Regions from separate parts of the Homo sapiens genome. Here all the other regions are reported to be linked to region 1. Evidence: microRNA targets listed by miRTarBase, many of them from high-throughput screens and not tested one by one. Region 1 holds a microRNA gene; each other region holds the end of a gene's coding sequence.

What was found. The annotated mature microRNA hsa-miR-183-5p reads UAUGGCACUGGUAGAAUUCACU and lies in region 1 at 2,730-2,751, opposite strand. An mRNA with a match to its seed (bases 2 to 7 or 8) in the 3' UTR can be bound and repressed. Matches are read on the target gene's strand: a 7mer-m8 pairs with bases 2 to 8, a 7mer-A1 pairs with bases 2 to 7 and ends in A, and an 8mer does both.
Region 2: miRTarBase lists CLN8 as a target of hsa-miR-183-5p. Seed matches in the 3' UTR shown: 7mer-m8 at 2,633-2,639.
Region 3: miRTarBase lists ARF3 as a target of hsa-miR-183-5p. The part of its 3' UTR that is shown has no 7-base or 8-base seed match.
Region 4: miRTarBase lists ZEB1 as a target of hsa-miR-183-5p. Seed matches in the 3' UTR shown: 7mer-m8 at 1,152-1,158.
Region 5: miRTarBase lists RALGDS as a target of hsa-miR-183-5p. Seed matches in the 3' UTR shown: 7mer-m8 at 1,338-1,344.
Region 6: miRTarBase lists TRO as a target of hsa-miR-183-5p. The part of its 3' UTR that is shown has no 7-base or 8-base seed match.
Region 7: the mRNA of GAS1 is a reported target of hsa-miR-183-5p. The part of its 3' UTR that is shown has no 7-base or 8-base seed match.

The regions. Positions count from the first base shown.
Region 1 is chr7:129,772,238-129,776,314 of GRCh38, forward strand. MIR183 (microRNA 183) reads right to left here and starts at 2,777; the gene lies at 2,668-2,777. MIR96 (microRNA 96) reads right to left here and starts at 2,532; the gene lies at 2,455-2,532. RefSeq lists an enhancer at 996-1,857.
Region 2 is chr8:1,779,971-1,784,047 of GRCh38, reverse strand. It overlaps CLN8 (CLN8 transmembrane ER and ERGIC protein), which reads right to left. Exons shown (of 3, transcript NM_018941.4): 3 at 1-3,798. The coding sequence ends at 3,481. Among named protein-coding and RNA genes, the nearest start is that of CLN8-AS1, 17 kb to the right of the region's middle. RefSeq lists an enhancer at 1-335.
Region 3 is chr12:48,935,325-48,939,324 of GRCh38, forward strand. It overlaps ARF3 (ARF GTPase 3), which reads right to left. Exons shown (of 5, transcript NM_001659.3): 5 at 399-3,784. The coding sequence ends at 3,623. It also overlaps a transcript of FKBP11 not described here. Among named protein-coding and RNA genes, the nearest start is that of FKBP11, 12 kb to the left of the region's middle. RefSeq lists a silencer at 1,165-1,354.
Region 4 is chr10:31,526,994-31,531,070 of GRCh38, forward strand. ZEB1 (zinc finger E-box binding homeobox 1) reads left to right here. Exons shown (of 9, transcript NM_001174096.2): 9 at 1-2,811. The coding sequence ends at 271. Among named protein-coding and RNA genes, the nearest start is that of MACORIS, 180 kb to the right of the region's middle.
Region 5 is chr9:133,095,200-133,099,276 of GRCh38, reverse strand. RALGDS (ral guanine nucleotide dissociation stimulator) reads left to right here. Exons shown (of 18, transcript NM_006266.4): 18 at 515-1,555. The coding sequence ends at 690. Among named protein-coding and RNA genes, the nearest start is that of RALGDS, 24 kb to the left of the region's middle.
Region 6 is chrX:54,930,711-54,934,787 of GRCh38, forward strand. It overlaps TRO (trophinin), which reads left to right. Exons shown (of 13, transcript NM_001039705.3): 12 at 1-321; 13 at 494-721. The coding sequence ends at 310. It overlaps PFKFB1 (6-phosphofructo-2-kinase/fructose-2,6-biphosphatase 1), which reads right to left. Exons shown (of 14, transcript NM_002625.4): 13 at 3,111-3,175; 14 at 2,251-2,752. The coding sequence ends at 2,693. Among named protein-coding and RNA genes, the nearest start is that of SNORA11G, 5.4 kb to the left of the region's middle.
Region 7 is chr9:86,942,354-86,946,430 of GRCh38, forward strand. It overlaps GAS1 (growth arrest specific 1), which reads right to left. Exons shown (of 1, transcript NM_002048.3): 1 at 2,009-4,077. The coding sequence ends at 3,389. Among named protein-coding and RNA genes, the nearest start is that of GAS1, 3.1 kb to the right of the region's middle.

The DNA of each region.
Region 1 (4,077 bases):
CGCTCCACGCACCCAGACAGGCCAAGCAAGGTGCCCGACATGGGGGACGCCCTAAACCCGGGCATCTGGGAGCCGCTGCTTTTGACAAACAGAAAAACAAAGCAAAAAGTGCTTCTCAGTGACCCTCCCGCTCCAGCAAGAAAGGCCTTCGCTGCAGTGGGACAGCGTTCCTGCCTGACACTGGACACCATTGGACAGATCATGGGCAGAACCTTTTGCCCATCTCACAGACCTTCTGGAAGCCACACAAGGGAGGATCCAGGACCTGTTCTGCAGGGTGGGGAGGTGAAGAGGGGCCCTCTCCTATCCTAAGTGCCCCCAGCCTGGGTGGTAGGAAATTGTGTCTTTAGGGAGGAGGGCCAGCTGTGGTGGCCCCCACTCTCTGGGACAGTCACTGTTGTGGGTGAACTCACCACCCAGGTCTGGCCCGGAACTAGGTAAATTAGGAGATCTAGAAACTAGCTTTGGCCTGAGGTCCTCCCCTGGAGCGCTGGAGCAGGGCCCCAGAGCAGCCGGGCCTGAAGCCTGGTGGAGGCACGCCCCCACACCAGTGCCTGCACTCGGGGCTCAGCAAAGGCGCCCACCTGGGCAGGTGTGAGGAGGTGGAGCCCAGCTGCAGACCACCCAGGGGCTGAGGGCAGCTTCTGTCATCCGGCCTTCCCCGCTAGGCAGGAAGGAGCAGAACCCTGGCCAGACACTCCAGAGGCTCCAGGGAAAAGCTCTAGAACCGGTCACTGCCAGGGGCCTTCCACCCCCCCTTGCTGGGTCTCTGTGCCCACCCCACCTCCAGGGCTCATTCTCACTCAGGCCGGGAAATCCCTTCTTTCCTATCCCATGGGACCTGCAGCAGGACGCCCTAAGGAAGCACCCGGGGCGGAGGACTGGAGCACAGAGACAGGGTGCGGCACAGGCCAGCCAGGTTCCGAGGGGCAGAGGGAGAGCTGGGGCCATCAGAAGAGAGACCTAGCTACAGGGACACCTCACCAGGGCAGAAGTCCCCTTCTATCCTGAAATAAACAAGCCCCTCCTTTTTTCTGCAGGGGCTTGGAGAGCTTCTGTAGAGAAACACGGGCACCACACCCCAGAGGGAATTTATTGGGGGCTCCTCGCGGTTTGGTGATAGCTAACTGACAAGAAAAAAAAGGCCCAACCCACCCAAGGCAGTCCCCAGGGCACCCAGGCAGGCAGCACTGGTCACCATGTTCCTGCTGTGCAGTCAACTGGACCCGTCATCCTCCAGCTGCCAGCTTCAACCACACACATCCCCCACCCGGGCACTCCCTGGCTCAGACACCTAAAATGACTCCCACTGATCTGGGCTAAGTCCACCAACCCTTGCCTGAGGCTCCCTGGGGAGAAGCAGCCCCATCAGGGGCTGGCCCAGTGACCTGGGGCATGATAGCTCCCAGCTGGTCCCAAGTCGGCCACTGGTCTCCTGCTTGATTGCTGACCACCAGATTTCACATGGGTCCAGCCTGGCTGGCCAGGCTCTCCCCAGCTTTGACAGACTAGGTCCAGGCCTCCCAGCCTCAGTCTCTGCCATCTGGGGCATCCTTGGGAGCCCAGGCCTGTAGATTCAGAGCTGAGACACCTCCAGGCCCTGGGTGCCTCCATGGAAGGTGTGGCTGGTGGCGGAAGAGCCACAGTGACCCAGCTCTACCACTCACCAACCTCTTCAGCCAAGCCTTTCCTCTCAAAGCCTCAGGTTCCCCATCTATGAGATAACTATTTTAAAAAATTACAAGCCCCACAGGGCTGAGGTGGGAACTGTTGGGATTATATATGTAATGTCACCTGACACCCAGATGGAGAGCATAGGCCAGTTAGTCATAGCCCAGATCCAGGGACCCAGGAAGCTACATTACCAGTGTGTGGTGTGTGAAGGGGAACATTGGCCTCTGCTCCAGAACCTTCTAGGGGCAGGCCTGAAAATGCCCTCCAACTCCGAGCCCCACTAAGTATCCTCCTCTTGGAGCTGTTCGGAGATGACCCACTCCACAGCAGGCTACAGCTCCAGAGACGGTAGCCCCCCTGGAAACACCCAGGCTGACCTCAAGGGCAGCCCACCTGCCTGGAGCTGCCCCCTTCACAACCTGCAGCAGAAAAGACCAGGCCCTGTGCTGCCAGCCAAGGTCTCACCCCAAGCGTGTGCTGGGAGCCTGGCTGGGCCTTTCCAACCCACGGCACCATTCAGGATGGCCCTACAGATGGTTTCAGACTCCCCCACCTCTGCCCTGGGCGGCCCCATCTGCTGGCCCAGCTCAGATTGCTGGGCTCCCAGCTCTACCGTGGCCCCAGGCAGTGTAAGGCGATCTGGCTGCCCACCAGCGCTGGGCCCTCACACAGCAGCTGAGCCAGATGGGCTGGGGAGGCGGTGAGGAGGCCTTGAGGAGGAGCAGGCTGGGGCCCTGACACAAGGATGCAGGGGAGGCGGACGCAGCTGCGGGTCCTGCTTTTCCCATATTGGCACTGCACATGATTGCTCAGAGCGGAGAGACACAAGCAAAAATGTGCTAGTGCCAAAATCGGCCAAGCAGATGGCACTGGTGCGGGCTCTCTGGGGACACACTGGACGAGGGGCCTTGCATCCCTGCACCCTTGGAAGCAGCCTGTTTCCGACGTCTAGGAGCACTCAAGGCAGAAGTGGGTAAGGTGCTCCGGAGGCCCTCGTGGATCTGTCTCTGCTCTGTTTATGGCCCTTCGGTAATTCACTGACTGAGACTGTTCACAGTGAATTCTACCAGTGCCATACACAGAACAGGAGTCACACTCTGCGGCCTGCCGACCCTGCGGAGAGACCAGCGGCCCACGATGCCCGTTCCCTGCTCCTAGCCTGCCCACTCCCTTGGGGGCCCCCCAGCAGGCCCTCAGCAGCGGCTGCTACGGTCTCTACCCCCCACCCCATCCCACCTCTTCACAAGATCCACATGCCCCATCAGCCCAAGATGACCTTCAAGGAGACAGGGACAGTGCGGGAGAGGAGCTGACCTTCTGGCCTTGCAGAGGAGAAGACCACACCAAGGTGTCTCCTATCTCCACCTGAAGGCCCACATCCCTCCACATCACCCAGACTGCGCCTCCAGGCTGGGGAGGGAGTGGGTCAGGACCATCCATCTCCTTGCCAGAGTAACTCTGGCTCGGAGAGGCAAGCAGCTGGCCAGAGCCTCCTCTCTACCCAACCTGCCACAGGGGCAGTGACCAGTGGGACATCCAAGATGCCTCTCGTAGCCTCTGAGCCCAGACACCAGCAGCCCAGGCTCCTAGGCACTTTGGTCTCCATTATCCTCCACCCCCCAGCCTGCCCTGTGGCAGAAACAGAGCCCCAGGAACAAACCGAATCTGCTGCTCACCCCCACTCCCATCCCAAACCAGACCAGATTGGGCCAGACTGTGAACCGCCCAGGCTGGGCATCTCTGCTGCCGGCCTAGGATCAAGGCAGGAAAAGGCCAGGAAAGGAGGGCAGAAGAGAAGTCCTGCAGCCACCCAGGTGGCTTGGAGGGAGCCGGAGGCACGGATGCACTCTAGCAAGGGAGTGGCTCCTGGCTGGCTCTGGAGTGACTGCGGAGGAAAGCGGAGGCTCAGGAGCGAGGGAGGGGCTGGGAAGGTTGCATCAGTGGTTGCCAGAGCAGCTGCCTAGAGAGAAGTTGCTGTGGAGGCCCTGCCTCTGGTGTCACAGGCCCTGGGGAAGGACGGGAAGAAGGGAGAGGGTGGGAGGGAGGGTCTCTGGGGAGCTGGCACCCAGGGCAGGCAAGCTGGGGCCTCCGCAGAGTGGCCACTAGAGTCTCAGCCTACTCCAGGTCAGCGGTGGCCCAGAAGGCAGGGTGGCTAGAAAATATCCTGGAAGGGTCAGAGCAGGTGCCCTGGCCCAGAAACTATGCAGACCTCTTGGCGATGTTACCCCCAGGAACTACCTCCCGTGGACCTCAGAGCTCCATCTGGGTACCTTGGCCAAAGCCATCCGCTCTCCCCTAGACACTGCTTAATGCTCCACCCTTCCTGCTCCCGAGGACTCTTTGTCCTGCTCCCACACACCCCCACTACAGGGCTCTGCCCTTCTAGCTGGTCTATCTCCCCAG
Region 2 (4,077 bases), not on the chromosome of region 1:
TCCCAAAGTGCTGGGATTACAGGCGTGAGTCACCGTGCCTGGCCTGAATGTCTGTTCTTTATAAACTACCCAGTCTTAGGTGTTTTGTCACAGCGGCCCATACTGCCTGAACCACGACTTTCTGCGCTAAATGCCGTGTTGAAGAGCCCAGCTCTGGCGCCGGAGGCTGCGCCCAAGGCAGGCACGGCTGTTCACGAGTTGCGTCACCTTGGGCACGTCATCACCTCTCTGAGCCCCGAAGCTCCTCGACAGAAGTGGAATCAACAGTGCCCATTTCATTCAAGTTGTCCGGGCGAAGAAAATGGAAAATCATGTCCCTTAAGCGCAATACCTGGTAAAAAATCTCACACTGAACTGCGGCCATGACAACTCCAGCATCACCCAAGGAGCCTGGACACCGAGAAGGGCAGAAGCCTGTGCGGCCCAGCCCCCGCAGCGCGGCGAGGAGGCTGCACCAACCCTTGGTCTTCAGTCACTCAACCTCCCTGGCCCATTCTGTTTCCCAACTTAAGAAACAAAACAAAACATAGGTATAGAGAAGGATTTCACTATCGAAAGAGAAAGCGCACTGACAAGTGATCACACTGAAGCCAAGCTGGAGAGCCACATCCTGGCTAAACGCAGGGCCATTTTCTATCCGGGTCACCTGCCATCAGGTGGAGTTAAGGCCGATATTGCCCAATCGTCCTAGTTTTCAAGCAGTTCCAGAATTCCTGTTATGTGAACTCACCTCGTTTAACACTTGCTGTAACTCTCAATAGAGGATGTGAAGCACGCAGCACACACGTGCAGCTGAATGCTGGCCAATGTGGGCCGCTGAGTGGGCCGGGCCCAGGCTCACACCAACCTGGCACCAAGAAGTCAGAGCTCATGAATGTCGCTTGTACCATGCTCCACTATAGCTACATCCCCTCACACTGCCGGTCAGGGAGACTGAGGCCAGTGAGGACCATGGGAAAGTGCTGTGCCATCTGGAAGGTGTACGCATCATTAACATTTCACGAAGCCTTTTCCACCCCTAAACCCCCAACTTCAGGCTCTGCACTGAGGGGTCCCCGGACCAATGTGTGGGTGACACTGGACGGAGCGGGTGAGCCTGTGCTTCTCTACAGCACCTCCATCTCTATGCATCCACACACGCGTATGAAGATACAGGAGGTAAAGTGTGGACCCCTGGGAAGGTCAAAGTCCTAGTGGAGGTGAGATAAAAATTAGGCTGTCCACTTCCAACTCCAAATCGAATTCTGAACACATGATGAATTTATCATTATATTTTCTATCTCCAAGATAAAGCATTCACAGCAATATGAATAGGTTAGTTTATTTTGAGAGAGAGGAAGACATCATTTGGGTTCTGTAAACATCAGTCACTTTATTATGCCTCTGTCTGGCTGAAAAACACCAGCTCCTGCTGACTCCACAAGGGCACGGCTGCAGAGAGTGCTGCCTGCCAGGTGTGAGGTTTCCAGTTAAAAGTTTCAGCAGGGACACCATTTGCTGGATGTGTTTAAGATTAAAATTGCTTCGTAAAATGTGATAAATAGGTTACTATACACCTTGGTCAATATAGTTAAAGCACCAGCAATCAAAATACACCGCTCCGGGCCGGGTGAAGTGGCTCACGCCCGTAATCCCAGAACTTTGGGAGGCCGAGGTGGGCAGATCACTTTTAGTCAGGAGTCAGAGACCAGCCTGGCCAACATGGTGAAACCCTGTCTCTACTAAAAATACAAAAAATCAGCCAGGCATGGTAGAGGTACCTGTAATCCCAGCTACTTGAAAGGGTGAGGCAGGAGAATCCCTGGAACCCGGGAGGTGGAGGTTGCAGTGAGCCGAGATCACACCACTGGACTCCAGCCTGGGAGCCAAAGCCAGGCTCCGTCTCAAAAAAACGAAAACAAAAACTAAACAAAAACAAAACACTGTTCCGAGAGTTCCATAAAACATAAGGAACGTAAGTCACACATGATTCTCACGAGCAGCCGACGTTTTCCACGTACATTTCAAAGGTGCTTGTGATAAAAAATAAACTTTGAATTTTAATTGCACGTTTATATCAAAACACTCACACACACACACACACACACACACACAATTCTGTATGTCTGTTAACAACATTGCTAAATTGCTGTGTAACTTCTACCTGGGTATAAAACAGTAGAACAATGTACCTTGGGACTCATCATCAGGCAGCTCATTGCCAGGGGCTGCTGCAGGACCACTCTAGGGACCCCAGGACCCTGCAGTCGAGCATCTCTGAGGGGTCCAGGTCCACCCTACAGCTCAGGGAGAAAATGACATCACTACTTGTCTTGAAATCTACAGAGGAACACCAACCACAGAATTAGGGTCTAGATTGGGTGCCTGTAGGTAACTCAGTCAATTAAAAACAGCTCTGAAACCCAGACAACCTGATTATGAAATCCTTACCTTATTTTGTCAAATGAGCAACACAGTATGAATAATAACTTCTCATTTTAAAACAGGTACCATGATTTAAAAAAAAAAAAAACTTGCAAGATTTCATCTTTACCAGCCCACGCTCTGGTTGGTGGGGGTTAAACTCCAAGGCGTCTCTGCTGCTACAGGAGTCACTACCCCTCAGCGTTGTCTTTGTACCACTTGCCACCAGATGGCACTGCCGTACACTTCGGTCTAGAATTTTTTTTTTTTTTTTTTTTTGAGAGAGAGTCTTGCTCTGTCACCCAGGCTGGAGTGCTGGAGTGCAGTGGTGCGATCTCAGCTCACTGCAACCTCCGCCTCCCGGGTTCAGGCAATTCTCCTGCCTTGGCCTCCCAAATAGCTGGGATTACAGGTGTGTGCCACGACACCCGGCTAATTTTTGTAATTTTAGTAGAGATGGGGTTTCACCATCTTGACCAGGCTGGTCTCGAACTCCTGGCCTCAAGTGATCCACCTGCCTCGGCCTCCCAACGTGCTGGGATTACGTCGGGTGTGAGCCACCCCACCCAGCTTAGAATTTCATACGCTGGGAAGCTTTAATAAGGAACAAATCATGTTATTTTCTATCTTAGCCCAATTCTCTCCAACTGAAAAGAATGTGACTTCTGAATAAGACACACGGCATATGAGTGTGCAGCTGGAAAGAGTCAACGCTGACCCACCCGCCCTGTGGGAGGCACTTCACTATGAAGCCATTTCCAGCATTCAAAGCCACCCCACTCCTCAACAGGTGTGACGCCCCGATGCCTGGACACCATGGACTCCTCTCCTAGATGCTTGACACGGTCCGGCGCGGCTAAACTGACAGAGCCTGCCAGACAGTCATAAAATTATAATTTCTTAAAAATACTTTGTAGCTACTTCAAAATTAATACTAATGCGAAAGAAAGTTAGTATTTCCCTTAGAAGTAAACACAAAACATTCACTGCCTCATTAATTCAAAAGCCATCATTCGCGGGGCTTCCCAGAATCGGTGTGCCAGCTCTGCTGCCGCCCCGGAGCCCCGGCTGGAGCAGCTATGGCCTCTTCTTCCGCAGCAGCTGCCCGTTGCCTTCTGGCCTGCTCTTGGCTTCTGGCTGTGCGAAGTTCCAGTCCACCGGATTGAGAAGCTGCTGAGTCTTCTTATGGGTCCAATATGGATTAATGATTAGCGTAAGCAGAGCCAGTCCGACAAGGAACAGTGTCAAATGAGGCAGATACAGGCTGCTGACCAGGCCGTCCCAGTGCCAGAAACACACCCACCACATGTGGTAGGTTAGAACCATGCGGCAGTGAAACATGTGAATCATCAGCCACTGGTTGAGCTTCCAAAACAGAGACTCGGACCAGCCCGCCTGCATGGAGAGAAGACAAATGCACAAGTCAATGCGAAACTGCCAAAATTCATTCTTCACATCACAAAAAGGTATTTGCTACCTTACTTACCAAACAAAACAAATTCATTTCAAAGCAAAAGAATTTCCTCCCCAGGGCTCTGCTCTCATTGGGACTTCATTCTGAAAGGAGGCCACCAGCTCTGTGGGCGCACCTGGGCCAGCAGGGCTGACCCTTGCCCGCTCATGCTGTTTTCCTGCTCCTCTTGCTCTTTGGCTTCTGCTCCCTAAAGCTATGAT
Region 3 (4,000 bases), not on the chromosome of region 1:
ATATGCTTCACACTGGTACTTGGGGCTCTCAAACTTATTATATGCCTAAATCCTATCCCTTTCCCACAAAAGCAGGCTGGGAAGACCTCTGTCCTCAAAGCTTAAGAAAATATTAAGATTGGGGAAGGCTTGCCTGGCTCACCCAGACCTCACCCACCCTAAAGGTAGCACCATCCCTTTCTTTGCCTGGAGCCAGACACTGGTAGCAGGGGAGGAACAGAATAGTGGTGGGAGTGCGATGGGAGGATGGAGGCTTTATGGAAAAGGTCTATTCCTCAAGACATTTGTGGGATCTCTGGATGAGGCTTGGCATCCTGACAATGAAAAACCACACGCCTGAAGTAGAGCTGATGCAGGGCCATCAGTTGTAAGAAGGATTAAGGTCATTACACTGCCCAGACGTTTATCCTTCATGTTTATTCACTGCCAAAGTCCAGAACTAGACTAGTGAGGGGGTCTCTGTTCAAACTAGAAGCACCTCATGTGCAAGGCTGAGGAGATCTGAGAGTAGAGGCACATGGGGCCCTCCAAGTTCAGGGCCCTTCAGCCAGTGAAGTCCATACAGTCTACCAACAGGTGAGAAATACAGCTGATTTCAGGTTTAAACCCTTTAGAACTAGAGGAGGAAAGTCACGAAGCCCTCACACTCTGATGCCCAATTCATTTGGGCTCCCCCGCCGCGGGGTATGATGGGAAGAAATAACCAGTGTGGAGTGGCACTAAGTTCCTCCATAACCTTACTCTCTATCAATCAAGTGTGCCTTTTACCCCTTTGCTGAAAGAAGGAGCACTATGGAGAGAGGGACCAGAAACAGGACTCCCCTCACCATGAAACTACTGTCCCACGGCTGCTGCACAGCAAAGATGAAGGTCGGCTCCAAAGCTGCATAAAACAAGTTTAATTTCCAACCAGGGTCACAGTCATCGCGTTATCCCACATTTTGAGCAAGGATAGAGAAGGTGAGTTATTAAACATATACAGTCTACATTCCAGAGGAGGAACTGCAGTTACCACTATAACACCACAGACAAACTTTGGGGTGGGGGGAGCGGGAGTCCTCAGGAAGCAGAAAGCTGGAATCAGGGAAAGCATAAAATTAAACCTACCAGAGAGGAGAGGAGAGGGAGTGGGCAGAAATGGAATGAAACACCCAATCCCAAAAGAGCTGTTAAGTGAATGGGAATGTAGAAAGGACCACCCCTGCCAAGGGCTTAGCAGCCAGGGATACTACCAAGATCACTTACTGCCCCCTGCTGGACAGATCTGGGGCAGCACCAAGGCAACCTCCTAACATTTCCAGCCCCAGATTGGTCCCTGGAGCCCCCAAAAAAACAAGGTGAGGGGTGAGGCCTGAAGTGAGGAAAACCTATTTAGGACTGACATCTAACTAGAGAAAGTCAGGGAATGAGGCAGGAGAAGAGGCAAAGTCCTCATGAACCACAAAGATAGAGTGGAAAATCCTAAGTAGGAAAAAATACATGGAAAAGGGCAAATGAGCAACAGCAGTGAATGAGTTGAGATTGAAAAGGAAAGAGTTCAAGGAAGGAGAGGCAATGGGGCAAGACAAAATAAATCTGAGGAAACAGAGCAAATAAAAAGTATGGAGGGAAGCATCTGTGGGGCCAGGGAAATGAATACATTTTTAAATGAAATAGAACCTCCAACACCCCCCCCACAACCACCACACACAAACACACCCACACCCATATACACACACACTCACACACACACACAGGCCTAGAGAGCAAGATACCTGCACACACCTGCTGCATCCTGGGTAACACATCACTAAGTAACTGGCACTGAGGGAGATACCCCTGGAACCTCTCTTTCACAGTTCAATCTTGGATGGGGTTACTAATATTGATCCATCTGCTATCAACAAAAGTGGCCAGGAAACCTGGCCCCATGGAGTGGGGCTTGGGACAGCCCTACTGGGAAGGGGTCCCTCAGCCATGCTGTGGGGGGCCCTGGGCCCTGACCTTAGCAGGTTATGGGCAGCTGTCTCGGAGCTCAGGGCGCAGCCAGCACACACAGGAGCCCACAGGACAGCCACGTCTTCACAGAAACTACAGAAGTCAGGACCCAGGCGAGGACCTCAGGAACAAGTGCCCCCTGCAGACAGAGAGACGCAGTAGCAACAGCTTCTGAACAACTACATAATAATGCGGGGAGAATCCTGAAGACCACTGCATCCCACAAGCACTGACAACCACTTCAGGATTTTATTTCCTCCACTCTAACCCCCAGATCCATTTATGAGAAGTGAGTGAGGATGGCAGGGGCATGGAGGGTGAAGGGACAGCAAGGATGGTCTGAGGGCCTGGAAACAATAGAAAATCTTCGTCCTTTAGCATATCCTGGACTAGAAAACAAGAGTTGGAGAAGAGGGGGGTTGATACTAAGGTCAGCTATGTCACCCCACTTCCCAGCTCCTCATTAGAATACCCAGTCAGCCCTGGTCAGGCCAGTAGGAGTACTAGGGTGAGAAAATTCTGACCAAGGACAGATGACCCATCCAACCCCTAAGATCAGAAGGGTGGTGGGGCACTGGAAGGCAGGAATGGGATTGGCCCATGCCTCACCTTCTCCTAATAACAAAAGAGAATGAAGATGGAAAACCTCAGGCCTTCGCCTCCCTTCCCCCAATGCCCTGGGTCCCTAACACACACCATGGACTTGCCATCCCCACCCCCCAGTCAAGCTCCAGAGGAACAGATCTGAAGATGGTGGGGAAGGATCAGTTGAACACTCTAAGCTGATAAGAGTGAGTGGGTTCCTCTCTCCTTCCCAACAGTAAGGCAGAGCAGAGTGGCATCTCCTTGGGAACAGTCATCTAGAGATAAATGCCATCCTCCAGCCCTAAGAAGGGTGGAGAGAAGAGTACAAGGAAAATGGTGGTGAAGAATCCATCATCTGTCCTATCATCCAGAAAAACCTACCTGCAGAGAGGAGGGTAACCAGTCAAAGACTGGGGCAGTCCGGCTTGACTAATGCCCTCCCACCTTCTTCCCTTAATCTCACCAACACGGAAGGGGCAGATGACAGGCTCCAGTGGGCAGTGTCCTGGCTGCAAGCCCTGAGCTTCACTCCACCCCCTCCCCGCTCCCCCCGGCCCCCACAAATATATCTCTCTATACATGTATATACAGGCGCACACATGCACGCAAACACAGAGAGGCCCGTGCAATTTCCATGTAAAACAGGGAGAGGGTGGCAAAGGAAAGGCAAACAGGGAGTAGAAGGGCTTGTGGGGACAGGGAAAGGACTCAGATGCCAAGAGGACAGCAACCACTGCCAAACAAAGAGAATACCCCACTCGACCTCCCGAAACCCAGAGGGTGAGAGAGAGAGGGGCCACCCCATGAAACCGTAACAACTTTTTGTTTTAAATCCAGTAAATTGGAATGACTCATCATCAGGACAGCAATTAGGGATTGGTCATATAGGTGGACAGGAAAAAGGAGGGGAGGCAGGGGAGGCAAGGCTCTTGCTGGGCATGTGGACATGATACCCAGGGCCCTGGCCACACTTGCATGGAGAGGAAGGGGTAGGACTGGGGCAGGGTGACAGTAGGTATGTCAGGGGTGGGTGGGGTGCTTTGTTAGGGCTGTCTGGCTTTCACTTCTTGTTTTTGAGCTGATTGGCCAGCCAGTCCAGGCCTTCGTACAGCCCGTCCCCGCTGGTGGCACAGGTGGCCTGAATGTACCAGTTACGGTGACGAAGGGAATGCAGGCCCAGCTTGTCTGTGATCTCAGCAGCGTTCATAGCATTAGGCAGATCCTGGAGCACGTGGGAGACACATAAAAAGAAGCCTCAGGATTTTTTAAAGGCTTCTAGAACACCCATCTACCAAAGAAATGTGTACCAGCACCTTCCCCTCCTCCTTTATTTTAGGAAACCCAGAACAAGATCCTAAGGAGCTACTTTGGATTTAGTCACCTAGAACTCAAGATCCAAAGCACTAGAGGTCACTGTACTGAAGAATTGGAAACCAAA
Region 4 (4,077 bases), not on the chromosome of region 1:
CAGTGAAAAAGAGGAAGAGGAGGAGGATAAAGAGATGGAAGAATTGCAGGAAGAAAAAGAATGTGAAAAACCACAAGGGGATGAGGAAGAGGAGGAGGAGGAGGAAGAAGTGGAAGAAGAAGAGGTAGAAGAGGCAGAGAATGAGGGAGAAGAAGCAAAAACTGAAGGTCTGATGAAGGATGACAGGGCTGAAAGTCAAGCAAGCAGCTTAGGACAAAAAGTAGGCGAGAGTAGTGAGCAAGTGTCTGAAGAAAAGACAAATGAAGCCTAATCGTTTTTCTAGAAGGAAAATAAATTCTAATTGATAATGAATTTCGTTCAATATTATCCTTGCTTTTCATGGAAACACAGTAACCTGTATGCTGTGATTCCTGTTCACTACTGTGTAAAGTAAAAACTAAAAAAATACAAAATACAAAACACACACACACACACACACACACACACACACACACACACAAAATAAATCCGGGTGTGCCTGAACCTCAGACCTAGTAATTTTTCATGCAGTTTTCAAAGTTAGGAACAAGTTTGTAACATGCAGCAGATTAGAAAACCTTAATGACTCAGAGAGCAACAATACAAGAGGTTAAAGGAAGCTGATTAATTAGATATGCATCTGGCATTGTTTTATCTTATCAGTATTATCACTCTTATGTTGGTTTATTCTTAAGCTGTACAATTGGGAGAAATTTTATAATTTTTTATTGGTAAACATATGCTAAATCCGCTTCAGTATTTTATTATGTTTTTTAAAATGTGAGAACTTCTGCACTACAAAATTCCCTTCACAGAGAAGTATAATGTAGTTCCAACCCGTGCTAACTACCTTTTATAAATTCAGTCTAGAAGGTAGTAATTTCTAATATTTAGATGTCTTAGTAGAGCGTATTATCATTTAAAGTGTATTGTTAGCCTTAAGAAAGCAGCTGATAGAAGAACTGAAGTTTCTTACTCACGTGGTTTAAAATGGAGTTCAAAAGATTGCCATTGAGTTCTGATTGCAGGGACTAACAATGTTAATCTGATAAGGACAGCAAAATCATCAGAATCAGTGTTTGTGATTGTGTTTGAATATGTGGTAACATATGAAGGATATGACATGAAGCTTTGTATCTCCTTTGGCCTTAAGCAAGACCTGTGTGCTGTAAGTGCCATTTCTCAGTATTTTCAAGGCTCTAACCCGCCTTCATCCAATGTGTGGCCTACAATAACTAGCATTTGTTGATTTGTCTCTTGTATCAAAATTCCCAAATAAAACTTAAAACCACTGACTCTGTCAGAGAAACTGAAACACTGGGACATTTCATCCTTCAATTCCTCGGTATTGATTTTATGTTGATTGATTTTCAGAATTTCTCTACAGAAACGAAAGGGAAATTTTCTAATCTGCTTTATCCATGTACTTGCATTTCAGACATGGACATGCTATTGTTATTTGGCTCATAACTGTTTCCAAATGTTAGTTATTATGGACCCAATTTATTAACAACATTAGCTGATTTTTACCTATCAGTATTATTTTATTTCTTTTAGTTTATAGATCTGTGCAACATTTTTGTACTGTATGTCTTCAAACCTGGCAGTATTAATACCCTTCTTACTGACATATGTACTTTTAGTTTTAGAAAACTTTTATATTTATGTGTCTTATTTTTATATTTCTTTATTTATTACACAGTGTAGTGTATAATACTGTAGTTTGTATTAATACAATAATATATTTTAGTATGAAAATTTGGAAAGTTGATAAGATTTAAAGTAGAGATGCAATTGGTTCTCCTGCATTGAGATTTGATTTAACAGTGTTATGTTAACATTTATACTTGCCTTGGACTGTAGAACAGAACTTAAATGGGAATGTATTAGTTTTACAACTACAATCAAGTCATTTTACCTTTACCCAGTTTTTAATATAAAACTTAAATTTTGAAATTCACTGTGTGACTAATAGCATGATGCTCTGCAGTTTTATTAAGAAATCAGCCTAACCATACAACTCTCATTTCCTTAGTAAGCCAAATTAGGATTAACTTCTATAAACAGTGTTGGGAACAATGTTTAACATTTTGTGCCAATTTGTTCCTGTATTCATGTATGTAAGTTACAGATCTGACTCTTCATTTTTAAGTTCCTTGTTACATCATGGTCATTTTCTAGTTTTTTACCAGACTCCCATCTCACAATAAAATGCATCAACAAGCCTGAACTGCTGTCATTCTTTTCATCATTATCAGTATTTTCTTTGGAAAACTGTGAAATGGGGTACATTGTCATCCTGCATTTGATTCATCTTGAGCTGAATTTGGGTAACACTAAATGTTTTAGACATTCTCCACTAAATTATGGATTTTCTTGTGGCTAAATGTTTCTGGAGAGGTCAGAGTTGACAAAACCTCTTCACAGGTTGCTCCTTCTTCCTGAAATCCTTAATCCTCCGCATTTCATGCTTCAGGTCATTTCAGGGAAGCCTGGGTTTAGATGCCTTTCTGACTCTCAGCTCCTGCACTTCTGTCATCATACCTCTGATACTATTATTTATATTCCTTCCCCACTAGGAACAGGAACCACATTTGTCATAGTCACTCTCACATTCCTCACTGCCTAACAGGGTGCCTGGCATAAGTTGGGACAACAGATATTTGTTGAATAAAAATATAATTTGCATGTTTATGGAGCTCAGCTATGTTCTCACTTTTTTTGCTTCTAATTCCAGAATATATGTTAAATGATCTAATAATTTGATTATTTTCTTATAAGTCTTATTAAACACTAGTCATAATAGACACAATAAATTATGCCTTCTTTTTCTATTGCCTTACTATTTTGATTTTTTGAAAGTGTATTTCTAGGTGTCTTCCTGGTGCTTAACCTCATGGTATATGGCACAGGTATTGCTGGCTTGTGGACATGACTACCTCCAATAGGAGCGATAGGACTGATCCTAGTCAGCTCTCCTTTGTAGAATTCACTTCCCTTTCTAGGACCCCATATTCGTAGGTGCTCGTTACCATGTTGCCTGATTTCCCCTGTCACTGAGAGCAGCTACCAATAAACAGACTGACTGAAAAGGATTAGGAACTAAGAATAAGATACTCTTCTTAGGAGGTATCCACAATGTAATATAAAGTTCAATGAGGGCAGTGCTTGATATGTATGGATAAATGACTAATAAAGGAATTTAGGCATTACCAGAACTTTTCAGAAAGAAAACGTACATGGACCTTTCCCAGTATTCCCTCATATGACATACAACAAAAATAATAGCAGGGCCATATATTATTTATTCATGCCATGCACAGGTATTTCACTACTATCAAAATGTTCACAAAAGCCTCATAAAAAATACAAATAAAGACAATGTGCCCATGAACACATACGTCTTAAGTAGCAGAATGAGGATATGAACATAGGCTTATCTGAGTCCAAATCCATGCTTCTTCTTTTTTATTTTTTTGAGGCAGGGTCTTGCTCTATTGCCTGGGCTGAAGTATGGTGGTGTGAACATGGCTCACTGCAGCCTCAAACCTCCTGGGCTCAAGTGATTCTCCCACCTCAGCCTCCTGAGTAGCTAGGACAACAGGCATACACCACCACACCTGGCTGTTTGTTTGTTTGTTTGTTTGTTTTTGTTGGAGAGTCAGGGAGTCTCACTGTTTCCCAGGCTGGTCTTGAACTCCTCGGCTGGAGGAATCCTCCTGCCTTGGCCTCCCAAAGTGCTGGGATTATAGGCTTTAGCCACTATGTTCAGCCCGAAATCCATGCTCTTACCTAGCCTGTATCACATCTCATGTGAGAATAGTTTACAGTATCTCAATCTTCGCCTTGAAGTATATGAATGGAAAATATAAGAGCAATATACATTTCATAGCCTGGTGGAAAAGAATGGATGGGGAATGAGATTTTTCAAATCTGTGTGCAAACTTAAAAAGAACCTTGAAAAGGATACTATTAAAGTGCAGTGATTATGTTGACATGAAAATGTAGAACAGATTTCATCTCATCCTATCAATGGGAGAATATATTAGGACGTTCAATATGTGAACATTGTCCTCTGCTCTAGCTCACATTCTATTC
Region 5 (4,077 bases), not on the chromosome of region 1:
CTGGTTTATAGCAGGCTGTGGGCCAGAGGAGATGGTGGGAAATGGAGCCAAAAGGAAGTGCTTGCCGGGTGCCAGGGTTCAAGGAGTACAGGCCTCCCTGGAACGGGCGCCAGAGCCCTGGGGCAGGCCTGTCCTTTCCTGGTCCTTGGATCCCTTGTCCTGAGTAGGGCAGGATTCTGGGAGGTGACCTGGATTCTAGAAAGCCTGTTCCAGGTGGGCAGCCAGCACTGCAGTATGGGCAGGACGGGGTGACCCTCTGCCAGCTCAGGCCAAGCCGGGGGGTTCTGGAGTCAGTCCCTGTTTAAACAAGAGTCATCAGGTTTTGTGAGGACCTCAGCAGAGTCTGTCCTCAGGCAGGAGTCATTGAGAGGGGTCCTTGGAGTTCTGGAGCTGTATTGGAGGGGATCTGAGGTCTGTGGCTCAAGACAGTCCTTGTATGGGCTCTCAAGCGGTAGGGGTATCCTGCAGGGCCCCCAGGAGCATCCCTGATCACCCCTCTGCCCCTCCCCACCAGAGCTGAAGATCCCTGAAAACGCCAACGTCTTCTATGCCATGAACTCTACCGCCAACTATGACTTTGTCCTCAAGAAGCGGACCTTCACCAAGGGAGTGAAGGTCAAGCACGGAGCCAGCTCCACCCTCCCTCGCATGAAGCAGAAAGGACTCAAGATTGCCAAGGGCATCTTCTGAGGGCATCCTCCCAGGGTCTGGCTGGCTGGTAGCCAAGCACTTATGGACCAGAGTGGCCCAGGCCAGCTGGGCGCCTTCCTCCCACCTGCCAGCCCAGGGTACCCCAGACTCCAGTTTCATCCTGAACCTCTCCCGCTGCTGGGATTGACGCCTGCCATTGGTCAGGCTGACCTGGCCTCCCGTGGACCACTCGCTGCCTTAGGTGCCTTCTGCTCTCTGGAACCAGAGGACTAGCTGACTTTTGCCAAGGAGCAGTGCCAACGGGCATGGCATGGTGCCCTGCCTGCCCCCGGGCGCCACCTCTGTACACTTCCCTGACACCTTCCCAGGTGTGGGTCACTGCCACCTGTGCCCATGGGCACCCCAGAGCACCCACTGTGACCACTGCAGTTCTCTCATGCCCACAGGCACTGGCCTGTGACCTTCGCAGGGGTCCCGGCCCCTCCCACCACTCTAGCCTTTCTCAGGCTGCACCAAAGATTCCATCATCAGGGCCAACTGAGAGTGAGGGAGTCTCACCCACCGCTTACCCCAGCCCTCCCCTGGGAGCAGAGAGAGAAACCCTCTTCATGGACCAGACTCTGCACCCGGTGAGTGAGGACAGTCCCAGCTGAGTCCCATCGATGTTGAATCTCATGCCACTGCAAGTGCCATTCACCACTGCGTCCTGGGCTTTACGAGACCATGCAAGACGGGGGTTAGTGAGGAAGGAGGATTTGGGGTGGGGGTGGGGTGATTGAATATTTGTATAAAAAGCAAAAAGAAAAAAAAAATGTTTGTTTACTGATTGGGGAGGGGCAATATTTATTTGTTGTAAATAGCAAATGCTAGACTTGAATATTATATTAAAATCCTGTTTCTACTATACCCTGGTCATTACAGTTTTGTTCTTTCATTACCTGTCTTAATTAAAATGAGATAGAGACTCTCACATTCCGTGTTTAAGTAAGGACCCTTGCAGGGTTATCCAGTTATTTTATGCACAGGAAAAGCCAGCCACTCTTCTCAGCACACTGAAGGAAACACAAAAGTTTACCTTTCATACAGCAGATGTTCCTTTTGGCACCATTAAACTGGGAAATGTGCTGAGACAGCCCTCAGAACTCCTGGGACTAGAGTTTGGAGGTACTTTCACAAGGCATAGCAAGAATTTCTGAAATTTAGCTGTCTTTAAAAGTAACATTTGTGGCCAGGCGTGGTGGCTCATGCCTGTAATCCCAGCACTTTGGGAGGCCAAGGCAGGTGGATCATGAGGTCAGGAGATCGAGACCATCCTGGCTAACATGGTGAAACCCCATCTCTACTAAAAATAAAAAAAATTAGCCAGGCATGGTGCCAGGCACCTTTAATCCCAGCTATTCGGGAGGCTGACGCAAGAGAATCGCTTGAACCTGGGAGGCGGAGGTTGCAGGGAGCTGAGATCACGCCACTGTCCTCCAGCCCGGGCAACAGTGTGAGACTCTGTCTCAAAAAATAATAATAATAAAGTAACATTTGTGACAAAAGATGGCAGAGTAGGAGGCCCCAGGGTTCAGTTTTTGCACAGAAACAACGATTAAGCTGGAAGAAAGAAAACTATCAGAATAAACTGTTTTGGGACTCTGGAACCTGGTCGGACATAGTCACCAGGGGAACACTTGGTGAAGGGAGATGCTGCTGAACTCCAACAGTTAACAGGATCTCCATCAAGTCACAGGCTGACCAAGAGACAACAGAACAGAAACTTCGTGACTATACACAACAAGGAATACAAATATAAGCCTGGCAAAAATACGAATATAAGCCTGGAAAAGTCACTATGGACACAGAAGACTGCATCCTTCAATAAGCAAAAAAGCAATTCCTGAGGAGGGAGACAATCTGATTTCCAGAGTCACTGCATTATAATACTCAATGTTCAGTTCTCAAAAAATTACAAAGAAACAAAAATATGGCTCATTCACAGGGGAAAAGAGGATTTAACAGAAGCTATCCTTGAGGAAGCTCAGACATTAAAATTACTAGTCAGAGACATTAAATCACTTGTCCTAAATATGCTTGATGAGCTAAAGGAAACCATGGAAAATAATGTATGAGCAAATGGGTGATTAGCAATAAAGGGATAGAAATTATAAAAACCAACCAGAAGCTCCGGAGCTGAAAAGTATAACTGAGAAGAAAAATGTACTAGAGAGATTCAACAGCAGATTTAAGCAGGCAGAAGAAAGAATCAGTGTACTGGAAGATAAGGCAATAGAGATTATTCTGTCCAGGGAACAGAAAGAAAAAGGAAGAAAAATGAACAGAACTAGAGGTTCTTGTAGGACACCATTAAATGTACCAACATACATTTAATGAGAGTTCAGAAAAGGCAGAGATTATTTGAATAATGGTCCAGAACGTCCCAAATTTGATGAAAGACATAAATCTCCATATCCAAGAAGCTCAATGAGTTTCAAACAGGATAAACTCAGATCCATACCCAAATTTATTAGTCAAATTGTCAAAAGACAGAAAATCTTGAAAGCAGCAAGAAGAGATTCATCATATACAAGAGATCCTCAGGATTAACAGCTGATTTCTCATCAGAAACCATGGAGTCTAGAAGGTAATAGGATGACATATTTAAAGTGCTGAAAGAAGGCTGAGCATGGTGGCTCACACCTGTAATCCCAGCACTTTGGGAGGCCGTGGTGGACAGATCATCTGAAGTCAGGAGTTCGAGACCAAACTGGCCAACATGGTGAAACCTTGTCTCTACTAAAAATACAAAAATTAGCCAGGCATGGTGGCACATACCTATAGTCCCAACTATTTGGAGGCTGAGCCAGGAGAATCGCTTGAACCCGGGAGACGGAGGTTGCAGTGAGCCAAGATCGCACCACTGCCCTCCAGCCTGAGCGACAGAGCAAGACTCCGTCTCAAAAAATATTCTCAAAATAAAGTGCTGAAAGAAGAAGCAAAACATCCTTTAAGGATGAAGGAGAAATTAAGACATTCTCAGATAAAAGTTAAGGGAGTTTTATTAGTAGACCTGCCCTACAATAAATGGTAAAGGGAGTCCTTCCAGCTAAAATAAACACTAGACAGTAACTTGAAGCCATATGAAAAACTAAAGAACACTGGTAGAGATAACTAACAGGTAGTTAGCAAAGCCAGTGTTATTTCACTTTGGATTTGTGTAACTCATCCTTTTTTCTTATGATTTAAAGGTAAAATTCATAAAGCTATAAATCCACATTAATGGAAACAATGTATAAAGATATAATCTGTGACTGACAGAGGGAAGATGTGTAATAGCAGTGTATACTACTTAAATTCAATTGGTATTATTGAAACTAGATTGTTATATGTTTAAGATGTTACTTGTAATACCAAAAGTAACCAGTAAGAAAATAACTAAAAAGT
Region 6 (4,077 bases), not on the chromosome of region 1:
AGGACTGAGTACCATCATTGGCTTTGGCAGTGGTTCCAACACCAGCACTGGCTTTACTGGCGAACCCAGCACCAGCACGGGCTTCAGTAGTGGACCCAGTTCTATTGTTGGCTTCAGCGGTGGACCAAGCACTGGTGTTGGCTTCTGCAGTGGACCAAGCACCAGTGGCTTCAGCGGTGGACCGAGCACAGGAGCTGGCTTCGGCGGTGGACCAAACACTGGTGCTGGCTTTGGTGGTGGACCGAGCACCAGTGCTGGCTTTGGCAGTGGAGCCGCCAGTCTTGGTGCCTGTGGCTTCTCGTATGGCTAGTGAGGTTTCAGGTAACTGCAATATTTCCATAGCCAGGACCCACAGGGATGGGTACAAGAGCTGGGAGATGTTGTAAGAAACACTAAGGCAGGACAGCAGGGTGGAAAGGTGAGGGCAATTAAGGAATTATGAGAAGACAGTGTATTTGGTGCTAAAATGTGTTCCTATTTGTTTTGTTTTCAGATTTATTCCCCATGTTTACAGATACCGCTAATAAATTGCAGTAGTCCTTCCCATGGAGCCAAAGTACATCCTTGGAATCTTTGTCCACACAGCAGTCAAGGCAGTTATGGCCAATCAGCTGAGGGTGTCATGTGATGGAAAAATCTGTTTGCTGTTCCTGCTTTATTGTTTGCTTTCTGTGTGCTGTCATATTTTGGTATCAGAGTTACATTAAATTTGCAAAATGAATTGGAGTTTTTTCTGTCTTTTAATGTGCTTAGGTAGTTGTGGAGTGGCATCTTGGGTTCGTAGAAGAGCTGGAGATCAGCATAGCTCTTTGGAGAATGTGGGTCTCCAGCTTTTGGCTCAAAGGCAAATATGATTTCAGCAGGATAGAGGCCTGGGGAAAGCATGGCAGGCAAGAGGATAACAGGTTGAGGAAAGATATGGAGAGGGAAAGCCTGGAGCAGAAGGCAAACGGAGAGGCTTCTGGACAGTAAGTACAGATTGATTTTGAATCACTGGTGTAAGAATGGAGGGAAGGGCAGAGGTCACTAGGGGTGGACATAAGAACAAGGGAGGGTTTAATTGGGATAGGAGAGGAAAACTTGGGCATATTGTATAGACTGTGGGGCAAAAGCTAACAGGAACAGGAGATAGATATGGAAGAGTCAGGAATTGACTGAAGTAGCCCATCCCTGAGAAGGTGGGATGGAATAGGGTACCAGAGAAGACAACCCTGACTTTGAACAGACTTAAGGGTGGCTGTGGATGCAGATAAATATAGATCTGCTTCAAGCAGGGATCAGCAACTTCTGTAGTAGACAACAACAACAACAAAAGGAGAGGTGGATTATACAAGGTTTAGGTCTTGCTGGGTGGTTGTGATGGAAGGACAAGGGAACAAAGGCAGCAAGTGTATGAGTCTGTCTCTTTACCACTGGGTCACTGGTACCTGGCTTATGGTAGCTGCCTGGAGAGTGGCTGAAGAGATGGCCCATAGTATCCAACATAGTTAGGGACAGAACACTAAGGATAGATTGGGGGACAATAGAGCATTCAAAGGACTCTGCTCTTGATGCTGTACAGCAACAAATATTGTTCATTCAAAAAATACTACAGGGCTGGGCACAGTGGCTCATGTCTGTAATCCCAGGACTTTGGGAGAGGCCAAGATGGGAGGATTGCTTGAGCCCAGGAGTTCAAGACCAGCCTGGATAACATAGTAAGACTTCGTCTCTACAGAATAATTGAAAATTAGCCGGGCATGGTGGTGTGCACCTGTGGTCCCAGCTCCTTGTGAGAGAGGCTGAGGTGGGAGGATTGCTTAAGCCCAGGAGTTTGAGGCTGCAGTGAGCTGAGATTGCACCACTGCACTTCAGCCTGGGTGACAGAGTGAGACCCTGTCTCAAAAAAAAAGAAGAAAATACTACATATATGCCTACTGTATGGAGGCACACTGCTAGGGATTCAGTGGATGACAGAGAGTTGTAAGGACTGGGGTAGTGGGTGGGCAGTGGTCAGACAGTTGGATGCTTACGTTTAAGAAGTCAGACCAGGGAGATGATACCAAAATCCATGGAGTAGGTGGTTGAAGGGGAGAAGATGATCACTGGAGTTGAGGGGGTCAGGGGACTGTGAGGCCAGAGTATTGGTTGGATCATTCACATAAACAGTGAAATCACTCAGGATGGCAGCAAGAGTTGGAGAAGAAAGGAGCACTTGGCTCAAGTGCCAGATTCTTCCCTGAGTATAAGGATGAAAGTGTCATGCCCACAGCCACCTTGCTGGAACAAGGCCCACAGGAACTCACAGGCACCTATCTTCTCCCCCATCTTTGGAGGTGCTACTGTAGAACTTTTCCCTCCAGGAAATCCTCACCCATTCCATGCCCTCACAGCAGCAGAGCTGGGTCAGGATTAGGGTCAGTACCTTGAGAACAACTGGAAAAGCCTCGCCATGACCTCCTCCTCTCCTCTTGTAGGCAGTAAGTCTTTATTCGTCAGAGAATAGGAATTAAGAAAGAAAGTTTCCTCCAGAGCTAGATAGCTCCTTGGTTGCGGCCAGCAAGCGAGGCTTGTTTGGGAGTTGCGGAGGACTTCTTCACTGGAAGTGGGGTGCCTCAGTGAGGCCAAGGCAGAGTAGGAGAAGAGCAAAGATAGCATTTCCTAAAGGTGGAAGGCGATGAGGACACAGGCAGTTTGACTTCTTGGAAAGGGCTCAGTAGTGGGCTGGGACAGTATCCAGGGCTTCCTCAGGTTCCCGGGTGATGTCCACATTCTGAGGAGAGAGCGCAGGATTAATAGGAAGGAGACAGCAGTGCAGGGCCCCAACCTCTCCCCTGCCTCTTGTCTTCATTGCCAGGCTCCCCTCTTTCAGCCAGGCCCGGATCCTGACCCTCAGGTAGGCCTGGGGGAATCTCAGCCTGAGGCCTTTTAGGCGGGAATTGCCCCAGCCTTGCATCTCCATGGTGCCTCGTGTCTGGGTTGTGGTTTCTGCATTTCTGGGTGCTGTTTGCTCCATCTGTTGGTGCAAAACACCCAGGCTTGGTGGGGTTGGGGCAGCCTTTCTGTGGATAAGGTGCTTTCACCATGTGCTGTGTCCACAGCCAGCTTGGGCCATGGAGTCCCCCACCTACCTCAGGCTTCTCCCGGTGTGTGTTCACGGCCTCCACATTCAGGTAGATGGATTCCACTTTGCAGCCTTAGAAAAGAACAATCCATCTGTCCATAGGCCCCCAAGGTAGGCACAGGTCTTCCCTGAGGTATCACCTCCCCTCCCCCATCACCAGCCACACCCCCAGCTTCATACTGTGTACAGATCATGACTCGCCTGTATGGAGGAGAATTTAGACAGCTATGTGATGTGTGGGGAAGACACCAGGCCTAAGAGGCAGCCAACAGGGTATCCTGTCACCTCTGCCCCTAACAGTCTTAGTTCGCTGAGCTTCAGGTGCTCATTTGTAAATGGGGATGGAGATGAGAGATGAACTCTGGCTGCCCACAGCTCTTGAGGTCCGCAGGACAGCAGTCTCATCTATGTAATATTGATGTAGCTCTGCGGATCCTCCAAGCCGTGTTAGGTGGTGAAGAGGTGGAAGAGTCCTGGGGCCACTGCCTTGGGCGATCAGTGCCAGGCAAAGTTTATCTGGAGGACAATGTGGTTGTGGCAACACCAGGAGTATGGAAGTTCACCTGGGAGTTTTAGGAAACCTGAAGACGGATGAGGGTGCATCATTGGGGCTTGGGGCTGACAGAGGGGGCCTAATGCCTGTGGAAGCTCCCTTAGCTTCATCCCTGTGGACTGCACCTTACTCCAGGCTTCAGTAGGTCATCTGCCCTGTTCGCACCCCAGAATAGATTTGATTCTGTCCCTCCCCTGTTCATGAACCTTTCATAGCTAATGTCCCAAGAAAGACCCTAAACTGCCCAGGCTGGTCTTTGTGCTCTTTCTCCAATACGGCCCTAACCTATAATTTTCCTCTGGTCCCCTTTGGGGAATCCCCCTTCCACAGCTTGGTGCTCTGTGCTGGGTGCTCTGGCAAAGACACAGAGTCAGAGCCAGCCCCAGATTTAGAAACCATCCTACTCTTTCCCTGTTATCCT
Region 7 (4,077 bases), not on the chromosome of region 1:
TTAGAAGGGTGATGCTTTTTGAGAATCCCCAGGAAAAGCCAGAGATACCTTTTCTTTCATTAATGGGACTTCCAGCCATTCTCCATGGGACATTTGAGATGGCCAAATGTCCAAAATTCCAAAAGGCTCCCCAGAGAGCGTGAGATATTACAGATGTCAACATCTGTAAAAATCCTTTCTGCTTAGAAGCAGATGGCAATATGCAATCTCATAACCACTAGCCAAAGGGTTCTAACATCTCAACAACCTCCGCTAGGTCTGTAGGGGTACCAGAGGACTCCTGGGCTCCAGTGTATAATTGTTTAAATTAAAATGGACCACCAATCAATGTTCACTTTCTTTAAGGAAGAAAACATAAAGCCTCGTGTCCTCTCTCCCCAAGAGCGAGTTGTGTTGATTTATTCCAGGCAGATGCTTTTGACAGGACCCTGTAAAATCAAGTTGTGAGTTTATTGTAGCAGTTAATTATCAGGCCTTTTCTAGTGCTAATGCCTTTTACTTCTTACTGGGGAAAACTGGGCCTTTTACTGGGACAAAGACTTAACTTTTAGTCAAGCATGTGTTAAAATAACATGAGATGGAGATGATTTAAATATATTTAAGGACAAACGCAGGAGCACTGCTAACTTGTCGTTTTGTAAAGAAAGCTGATTTCATTTACAAGTCTCTGGGAATACTCTTTGTTCGCTTCCCAAAGAAACAACGCTCTCAGCTTTGTTTTAACAATATGTTTACTCAACCATTCAGGTGACTGGAGATTCCAACCACACACCACTCTCCTGGGCTTAAGTCTGACACTACAGCTATCTTAGACTTTCTAATACTATACATATAGAAATCGTGGTTTTAGGTGCACCAAGAAGTGTCTTGAATACCTCCATAAAAGCTGGGAAAAGAGCGAGTTAGAAGCACAAGAAACCTTGAAAAGTAGGGGGGTGGGAGTGGGTATGAGGAAGTCAGAATGGGGGCATAGCTTCGTTAATTACTTTAGGCAGCAGAGAAATCTGGTTATGTTTTTTCAGCACATGTTAATATCAAATAAAGAGACACCAGATCTTGCTAATCTGTCGACCCCTCAGACAAAGTTTATTTGTGGTGACTTTTAAACTCCCGACTTGCCTTCCAATCACCGCGTTTAAAATGAAAAGCTTTAAACAAACACCAGGAATAGAAGATAAATAAACTTTTTTTCCCCCTTGCAAGTGCCTAGCTTGGCGAGGTTCAGGCTCAAATCCCTAGAGGACAGAGCGCTCTCTTTTGTGTTAATGTTTAAAAGATTTTCCAATGCCGGAGTTTATTCCTACTGCAAACATTTCTATTTACAAGGTCAAGTGTATCAGCACTCGACACAGCTTAAGAGTGTAATTATTTATCTAAGGGCGTTTGAGTGTAGATCAGTAGCTCTGGCAGGAACCCAGCCTTCAGCCACTGCTAAACAACTCCTCACAACAATATTACAAGTTCTGGTGATTGTTCCTTTCCCCTGTGTGTTTACTTTTGCTGGTCTGAATGTTTTGCAACAAAATTTTGTACTTTTTCACCAAAAGTGTGAAAATGACTTTGAAGTATTGAGCTTGCAAGCTTCCTAAAACCTATTGGTAACAGATGTTATTGGCATGTTTGATTGAGAATGGCTAGTAGCCAGAGAGGATACTCTTGGGGGTAAGGGGTGATGGGAAGGGGGATACAAAGAGGGGAGGTCTCAGGGGAAAAGGGGGAGGCGGGGCAACATGTCTGAGTTATCCTCAAATTATGTACAGGAGACACTATTTTGTGAATTCTCTCCACAAATGCAAACACCAATAGAAGCCAGTCAATTACATATTTTTGGCTGCCTCATTTACAGATGTCTAATTGTTCATTAAATTAAAGGCAGAAATAATTTCTTGTCTTGTACTGTATTTTCATTTCAGTTGATGGTTGATAGATTCTCAGTGCCCCCTCAACCCCCCTCCTCACCCATTATTGGGTTAACCACAATGTAACTCTGGAAAGTAACTACACCATATTCATTGTTTAAAACTCTTTACTGATGTACATGTTTTAATAAAACAAATAACCAAAAAAAATACACAAATCCATAGTTATTTAAAAACTTAGGATTTTTAAAAAACATGTCTATAAAAATACAACGTTTAAGGCAGTTTGGAAATGCATTTGTACATTTCTACAACGTCCATAAATTCTCTTGAAAATAAGAATGTTAACTTCAATTCTATAAAATACACTGTACATTTTAAGACTGTTCTAAATATAGCACACTTCACAATGGACTGTGGGTTTTGATTCCTGATGACAAATGGATTCTATACATTTCAGGGGGGAAAGGTGTAATATGGATGTGAGTTTAAAACTTTTAATTTCTTTTTAAAAATAAATTATTTCTGAAGCATACAATTTATAAAAATTCTATATACAAAGTACAGCAACTGGTAACAAACCCCAGTTTTAATACATTTTATATACGATGTACCAGGGTTTAGCAACCCTGATAGGAGCAGAGGCAATATACATTCTCCGCATATTTAAACATAAAATTTCTTGATGTAAAGAACAAAAATGACAAAAAAACAAACATCATAAAGAGACTTTCATACATGGCAGTGCAGAGCTTTTTTAAATAAAAAGTTGCATTGTTCAACACCATGGCAACCCCTTAGATCAGCATTTTTGGACCCTTAATCCTAAGAAATGTGCTAAGAGATCAGAGTGGTAGCAATGAAATTAAGGTCAAGGGCTCAAACTTATCCAAAACCAATTTAGGGGTTCCCTCTAAGGCAATCGCCACCCACCCTCACCCCCACGTCACTGAGAATTCTGGGCGCAGATACAAACAGTGAAAGAATGAATCGGTAAGTGGGACTTTTCTGTTTACATAGGATTATAATATCCTCACTGGCCACAATCTGTAAAAGTCGATACTGGCACTTTTTTTTGCCCCCTCAAAGGAAATATGCTAATAGACAGCCCCTTTGCAAATATAATTCCTCCTTCCCAACCCTTCAAATTGCTAAGGCCCCACTGGTCAGCACCTTCCCTTTCGAGTCCAGGACTACTGTTCTGTCCCCCACATGCTTGCTTCCTCCCGGACGTCCTGAACACTGCAGCTAGCTTTCTGGACGGCAGACGAGTTGGGAGTTTCTGGAGCTTGGAATTGGGGCGGGGGAGGAGGTCCAAGAAGTCAAGCTCCGGAGAGGAGCTTCAGGGGAAGTGCCCAGAGTCGTGGCCGGGGAACCGGCTACACCAAGTTGACTTGGAAAAAGTTTTGGGAAGTATCCCCAACCATCCCTTCTATCTGTCCCAAGCCACAGGTGCCCGGCGCGGGGTCGAGGCGAGCACGGGAGTGGGACGCGGGCTCTCCCGCAGCCAACGGCGGGGGGCGCGAGGGCTAAAAGAGCGGCCCAAGCAGCAGCAGCAAGATGGAGGCGAGTGGGGTCCAGGCGCCCCGGGGCGCCAAGCGGCCGCCGCCGCCGCTGCTCCTGCGCCCAGGCCCATAGGGCAGGTCCCCGCGGCCGCCCGATGCAGCAGCGCCGCTGCCCGGGCGCGGTGGGTGCGGGACGCCGTCGTCGTCGTCCAGCGGCTGCTCACCACCCGCGCCCCCGGTGCGCTGCTCGTCATCGTAGTCCTCATCGTAGTAGTCGTCCAGGCCCCCGTCCGAGCCGCTGCTGCCGGGGCCGTTGCCCAGCTCGGCGCCGAAGCACAGGCGGGCCATGTTCTCCTTGACCGACTCGCAGATGGGCCGCTCGAGGCCGTCGCACACGCAGTCGTTGAGCAGCGCCGCCTTGGGCATAGCCAGCATGTCCTCAATGACGGTGCGGCATTCGTCCGTGCAGCGCAGCCCGTTGAAGACTTTGCCGCAGTAGGTCAGGTAGCGGCTCAGCGCCAGGTTGCAGCGGCTGTCGCGGTCGCAGCGCCGCCGGGCCTCGGTGCAGCCCATGACCCCGCCCGCGCCGGGGCCGCCCGCGCCGCCGCCGCTCGTCCGGGGCAGGCACGGCTCAATGGCGCGCTTGGTGGACTTGCAGTTCTCGTCCTGCGCGCAGTCACAGTCCTCCAGGGCGGGCCCGCGGCGCGTGTGGT